Linked DNA regions of Homo sapiens. The protein of the gene in region 1 interacts with the protein of each later gene in a pairwise test. Each region holds a gene or a part of one and is shown on either strand. Other genes may lie near its edges.

The links.
Region 2: the proteins of C4BPA (region 1) and GTF2I interact in a two-hybrid assay, tested with the Homo sapiens proteins (one large-scale study listed by BioGRID and IntAct).

Annotation. Positions count from the first base shown.
Region 1 is NC_000001.11:207,142,098-207,145,661, forward strand, and holds the end of C4BPA (C4b-binding protein alpha chain precursor), read left to right. Parts: intron 1-1,720; coding exon 1,721-1,896; intron 1,897-2,446; coding exon 2,447-2,620; 3' UTR 2,621-2,875; downstream 2,876-3,564. UniProt on the Homo sapiens protein: Controls the classical pathway of complement activation. It binds as a cofactor to C3b/C4b inactivator (C3bINA), which then hydrolyzes the complement fragment C4b.
Region 2 is NC_000007.14:74,734,026-74,737,849, forward strand, and holds part of GTF2I (general transcription factor II-I), read left to right. Parts: intron 1-1,435; coding exon 1,436-1,507; intron 1,508-2,474; coding exon 2,475-2,658; intron 2,659-3,824. UniProt on the Homo sapiens protein: Interacts with the basal transcription machinery by coordinating the formation of a multiprotein complex at the C-FOS promoter, and linking specific signal responsive activator complexes.

The DNA.
Region 1 (3,564 bases):
TGTGATGTTCCCCTCCCTGTGTCCATGTGTTCTCATTGTTCAACTCCCACTTATGAGTGAGAACATGCAGTGTTTGGTTTTCTGATCTTGTGATAGCTTGCTGAGAATGATGGTTTCCAGCTTCATCCATGTCCCTGCAAAGGACATGAACTCATTCTTTTTTGTGGCTGCATAGTATTCCATGGTGTATATGTGCCACAGTTTCTTAATCCAGTCTATCATTGATGGACATTTGGGTTGGTTCCAAGTCTTTGCTATTGTGAATAGTGCTGCAATAAACATACGTGTGCATGTGTCTTTATCATAGAATGATTTATAATCCTTTGGGTATATGCCCAGTAATGGGATTGCTGGGTCAAATGGTAATTCTAGTTCTAGATCCTTGAGAAATTGCCACACTGTTTTCCACAATGGTTGAACTAATTTACACTCCACCAACAGTGTAAAAGCATTCCTATTTTTCCACAACCTCTCCAGCATCTGTTGTTTCCTGACTTTTTAATGATCACCATCCTAACTGGTGTGAGATGTTATCTCATTGTGGTTTTGATTTGCATTTCTCTAATGACCAGTGATGATGAGTATTTTTTCATAGGTCTGTTGGCTGCATAAATGTCTGCAAGAAGGAAATTTTTATACTTAGAATCTTGCAGCAATCAAAACTGTGAGTGACAGTTACCTCGTTAGTTGGGATTCTGGGGTCACATACCTTCTTTTAGAAATATCCTGTCATGGAAACAACATGCTGGAGAGGATGTGGAGAAATAGGAACACTTTTACACTGTTGGTGGGAGTGTAAATTAGTTCAACCATTGTGGAAGACAGTGTGGCGATTCCTCAAGGATCTAGAACTAAAATACGATTTGACCCAGCAATCCCATTACTGGGTATATATGCAAAGGATTATAAATCATTCTACTATAAAGACACATGCACATGTATGTTTATTGCAGCACTATTCACAGTAGCAAAGACTTGAGACCAACCCAAATGCCCATCAATGATAGACTGGATAAAGAAAATGTGGCACATATACACCATGGAATACTGTGCAGCCATAAAAAAGAATGAGTTCATGTCCTTTTCAGGGACATGGATGAAGCTGGAAACCATTATTCTCAGCAAACTAATGCAGGAACAGAAAACCAAACACCACATGTTCTCACTCATAGGTGGGAGCTGAAAAATGAGAACACATGGACACAGGGAGGGGAACATCACACACTGGGGCCTGTCAGGGGGTGGGGGGCAAGGGGAGGGATAGCATTAGGAGAAATACCTAATGTAGATGATGGGTTGATGGGTGCAGTAAACCACCATGGCACATGCATACCTATGTAACAAACCTGTAGATTCTGCACATGTATCCCAGAACTTAAAGTATAATAAAAAAAGAAATATGTTGTCATATTATATGAAAATGTTATTACTTTGAGCAAGTGTCTTAATGTATCTCAGCTGTCTCTTAGATAAAATGGGAATAATAACAGTGCTCATTTCATAGGGCTGCCAGGAGACTTAAATGATAGCAACATAAAGTGCCTAGCAGAAGTCTGATAGGTAGTCATACTCAATAAAATGCTAATATGAATGTTTTCAAATGAAGAGAAAGATAGAACAATTAGCAGAACTAAATACAGTTCATTCTTATTATCCGAGACTGTTATCATGTCCTTCTTCATAGATTTACAGATTTCTTAAAAATATGTTTCCATTACAGCTCTGTGTCGGAAACCAGAATTAGTGAATGGAAGGTTGTCTGTGGATAAGGATCAGTATGTTGAGCCTGAAAATGTCACCATCCAATGTGATTCTGGCTATGGTGTGGTTGGTCCCCAAAGTATCACTTGCTCTGGGAACAGAACCTGGTACCCAGAGGTGCCCAAGTGTGAGTGGGTAAGTGGCACAATTCAAGGAAGTTCTGTGCTGTCGACCCCTAAAAATGGTGGCATCCCCCAGAGCTCTGTACCACTCAACAATGGTGAAATCTGACTTGTCAGGATTCATTTCTGAGCCACTCCCACTCAAAGAAACTCTTTTTGTCTTGAAGCATTCTGGTAAGTTAGGGGTGGCAAGTTCTCCTGTTCTCACTTGAGAACAGGAAAAACTGAGCCCTTACAGAGCAGGGTTTCATAGACCCAGTAGTACTGATTTCTAGCCTAACTTTTGCTAAGCTATATAATATATTGTTGTTCCATTTCTGGATGGTCAGCAAAAACAGCCTCTGTTACCATGGGGGCCTTCTGGACAGCTGTCTCAGAACAGATCCATGTTCCCCTGGGGAAGACTGTGGTGGGACCCAAGTGATTTCTTGTTTTCCCAGCCTCAACCACCAGTCTGAGGTTGGTCTTGGTTCAATCCTGTAGTCCTTCCACTGTCAGGATCCACCCTCCTTTATGATTAGAAGAGAAGCTTCTCAATCACACCCACCACTTATATCTTTTAGGAGACCCCCGAAGGCTGTGAACAAGTGCTCACAGGCAAAAGACTCATGCAGTGTCTCCCAAACCCAGAGGATGTGAAAATGGCCCTGGAGGTATATAAGCTGTCTCTGGAAATTGAACAACTGGAACTACAGAGAGACAGCGCAAGACAATCCACTTTGGATAAAGAACTATAATTTTTCTCAAAAGAAGGAGGAAAAGGTGTCTTGCTGGCTTGCCTCTTGCAATTCAATACAGATCAGTTTAGCAAATCTACTGTCAATTTGGCAGTGATATTCATCATAATAAATATCTAGAAATGATAATTTGCTAAAGTTTAGTGCTTTGAGATTGTGAAATTATTAATCATCCTCTGTGTGGCTCATGTTTTTGCTTTTCAACACACAAAGCACAAATTTTTTTTCGATTAAAAATGTATGTATAAAAAACTATTTTGTCTTTGTGGTCATTTAGGACTCTGTGAAATAAGCGTCCTTAAAAAACCCATAATATAAAGTTAATACATTAATACATTTGTTTTACTGTTTGGGCCACAAATAATAGGTACTTGGGTTTTCTTTTTTTTTTTTTTTTTTTTGAGACAGACTCTCACTCCGTTGCCCAGGTTGGACTGCAGTGGCACAATCTTGGCTCACTGCAACCTCCACCTCCCAGGTTCACACAATTCTCCTGCCTTAGCCTCCTGAGTAGCTGGGATTACAGGTGTGTGCCATCATGCCCAGCTAATTTTTGTATTTTTAGTAGAGACGGGGTTTCACCACTTTGGCCAGGTTGGTCTCGAACTCCTGACCTCAAGTGATCTGCCCACCTTGGCCTCCCAAAGTGCTGGGATTACCGGTGTGAGCCACCATGCCTGGCCATACTTGGGTTCTTATCGTGGACAGACTGCCTTTACTCCACAGTTTCATGTGTGCACAGCACTCATGTCCTCCCTGGTGAGGTTAAATGTCAACACACCCTCAAAGCCTCCCCCATTCTCCCGCTCTGGGGGAGTCACGCCTTCCCCTGAGCCCCTGTGCACGTTGTCTCTTTGACTCATGCCACATCTCCACTATTGCCTTCCATGAAGGAAGTTTGCTTTTGTGTCTGACTTCCTCATTCCAACCCCAGAGAAGGAACT
Region 2 (3,824 bases), on another chromosome or scaffold:
ATTATTTCACGCTTAACATTGATTTCTTCTTTATGTTACCTTCCACATGAAATAATATGTCTCTAACTATTAATTATGTGCCATTACAGGAGAATTCATGTTGTCAAAATTCTAATAATTTCTAGAAGAATAAACGCATCTTCTTTTTATTAACCCATTGTAAATACTTATAAATATTGCATTTATGGGTAGACAGAAGTAAAAGAACAATATTTGTTCTACTTTTGATGCAAGATTTATCTGGCATAATGCATTGAACAGTTTATTATTGAAGTCTACACGAGTCAATGGAACAAGCATTCATTGAATGTCCATGATATGCAGGACATAAGAAGGTTTCCTTTTAGAGCATGGAGCCATTTATATCATCTCTTAATTGTTAGATGTATTTTGTTTTGTTTTGTTTTGTTTTTTGAGAGGGAATCTTGCTCTGTTGCCCAGGCTGGAGTGCAGTGGTGCGATCTCCGCTCACTGCAACCTCCCGCCTCCTGGGTTCAAGCAGTTCTCCTGCCTCAGCCTCCCTGTAGCTGGGATTACAGGTGCCTGCCACCATGCCCAGCTAATTTTTGTATTTTTCGTAGAGACAGGGTTTCACTATGTTGGCCAGGCTGATCTCAAACTGCTGACCTCAGGTGATCTGCCCACCTCGGCCTCCCAGAGTGCTAGGATTACAGGCATGAGCCACCGCGCCCAGCCTGTTAGATGTGTTTTAAAATAAATAGAAATATAATTGATTTTCTTGCTTGCTTTTGCTCTGGAGTGGAGTGGAGTGAGGATAAAACAGAATGGAATCACCCTGTTGATATTTACTAAGATAGAAGGACTGCAGCAAGATCATAGCCCTAATCTTCCTGTAGCAAGTGTTACCTGCTAGCTGTTCCTGAATACACTGAGTTTTGCTTTTTCCTAGCTCTAATGAATGTTTCGTTCTTCCTCTTTTTGTACAGTGTCAGCATTGTTTTAGAAATAAATACATTCTAGAATCTTAGGAATAATTTTATTATTGTCTTTTTTTTTTTTTGAGACGGAATCTCATTCTGTTGCCCAGGCTGGAGTGCAATGGCGCAATCTCAGCTCACTGCAACCGCTGCCTCCTGGGTTCAAGCGATTCTCCTGCCTCAGCCTCATGAGTAGCTGGGACTACAGGCGTGCGCCATCACGCCTGGCTAATTTTTGTATTTTTAGTAGAGATGGGGTTTCACCATGTTGGCCAGGCTGGTCTCAAACTCCTGACCTCAAGTGACCCGCCTGCCTCGGCTTCCCAAAGTGTTGGGATTACAGGTGTGAGCCATTGCACCTGGCCACGAATCTTAGAAATAATTTTGGCCATAGGAAAAGGAAAAGTTATACCTCTTATTTTATAGTAATAATGTTTAATAATCAAGTTATTAAACCCATTAAATTGAGAACACTTGTATTACTGTTATTTTGACAGTAAAGGAAGAATGGTATGCCAGAATCACTAAATTAAGAAAGATGGTGGATCAGCTTTTCTGCAAAAAATTTGGTAAGTCTGTTTTTTTTAATTACCCCTTCAACTAAAATGTATTACTGAGTAACATTTTTTTAAATGTTGTTTTATTTTAGGAAAGTAAATACAGTGAATAGGACTCAGCTTTAGTTTTCCCTGTTTTTTTTTTTTGGGTTTTTTTTTTTTTCTTGAGAAGGAGTCTTGCTCTGTTGCCCAGGCTGGAGTGCAGTGGTACGATCTCAGCTCACTGCAACCTCCTCCTCCCGGGTTCAAGCAATTCTCCTGCCTCAGCGTCCCAAGTAGCTGGGATTACAGGTGCCCGCCACCACGCCTGGCTAACTTTTGTATTTTTAGTAGAGATGGGGTTTCGCCATGTTGGCCAGGCTGGTCTCAAACTCCTGAATTCAGGTGATCCACCCGCCTCAGCCTCCTAAAGTGCTGGGATTATAGGCGTGAGCCACCGCGCCCGGCCCCCATTCTATGAATTATCTGTGGAAAGTTATTTCCTTTAAAATGGCATGCTCGTGAGGTTGAAGGGGTAAAGAACATTGATCTGGTTGCCACGCAGATGAAAGTGTAGTCGGAAATGTGTTACCAGTTTGCCATAGCCGATGGAGGAGGGTAATTACGGTCCTGAACAGTTAGTAGCAAAAGGCTGCTTCCAGATAGTATTTAGGTTGTGTCCTCTATTGTCCATGATGATTTTCTTTCTCTCTTTTCTTCCTAAGGATATTGAAAAACAAACTTTAATCTTTTAAAGATCTCAGAGCTATTAAGATTGTCTTAGGACCAGGACACTTAAATCTGCCCAAATCTGGCTGTTGATGATCGGTCATCTCTACTTGTCTTTGCTGTATTAAGTCTATTCAATAGTTAATAAATATGTTTCTAGAAAGAGTTTTTTTCAAGTAAAACAAAATTGACCTGTGCCTTTCTTTGGATTGTACTAAAATCTGATTTCAATACAAATGTAGTCTCCCGAATTGCTTTGATTTTTGTCCAGCGGAAGCCTTGGGGAGCACTGAAGCCAAGGCTGTACCGTACCAAAAATTTGAGGCACACCCGAATGATCTGTACGTGGAAGGACTGCCAGAAAACATTCCTTTCCGAAGTCCCTCATGGTATGGAATCCCAAGGCTGGAAAAAATCATTCAAGTGGGCAATCGAATTAAATTTGTTATTAAAAGGTAAGATGATAATCTGTAGAAATAGTTTCAGTGTCTTCCCTGAGAAGAGGTTAATTTGATGAAGAAGGGCCTTTTGTTTACCTTATGACTTATTTCTATTGACAATGAAGGCATTAATATTTAGATTCACTTAGTGAACAAATATTAGTATAAGCATCAGATGTGCAAAATTGGGTCTAACAAGAACACTGTCCTTGGGGCCTTCATACAAAGAAAAATGCACTGAAGGCCGGGCGCGGCAGCTCACGCCTGTAATCGCAGCACTTTGGGAGGCCAAGGCAGGTGGATCACTTGAGGTCAGGAGTTCAAGACTAGCCTGGCCAACATGATGAAGCCCCATCTCTAGTAAAAATACAAAAATTAGCTGGAAGCGGTGGTGCAAGCCTGTAGTCCCAGCTACTCGGGAGGCTGAGGTTGGAGAATCACTTGAACCCTAGAGGCGGAGGTTGCAGTGAGCCGAGATCGTGCCACTGCACTCCAGCCTGGGCAACAGAGCGAGACTCCATCTCAAAATAATTAAAAAAAAAAAATAGAAAAATGCAATGAAGTGTTATTGAGCGTTTTTAAGGGAGAAGGCAAGGATGGCACACCCAGCTCGGTCACTTGTGCATCCAGAAGAGATGGAAGGTGTTTCAAGTGAAGGAAATCATATGAGTAGGGGGAGGAGGTGGCAAATATGCCTGCGTATCCACAGAACTCACCCACCGTGTGTGGAGTGAGGACTGCCACGTGGGCGTGGTGGGGTTGCATGGATCGACTTGGGTGGGCAAGTGGAGGAAGGCCTGAGATCCTACGAACACAGAGGCAGTCACGAAGTGGTCTCGAGGCAGATGCCTCTGAAAATAATGTGGATCCGCCCTTTAGAAAGGTAATTCTGGCTTGATTTTGAAGGATAACACAATGGTTAGTTTGGGTGCGGGGTTAGGAACAGAAGGCCTCTCTCCACTCATTGACGGGATGTGGAAGGGTAAACCTTCCTTACTGATTGGGGTCATGCCTCTGTGTGTTTGTTGGGACTGAGTTATAAGGGATAGGAAACGTTTAAGATGCTACAGCGAGCTGCTTCTGGCTGTGCTGTGGGACAGTTCATGTAAGATTCAGAAACAGAATTGAGCTGGTTTGGGGGAAAAGTGACTTTCGCCTGTTTATCTTAAATATAGGATGAT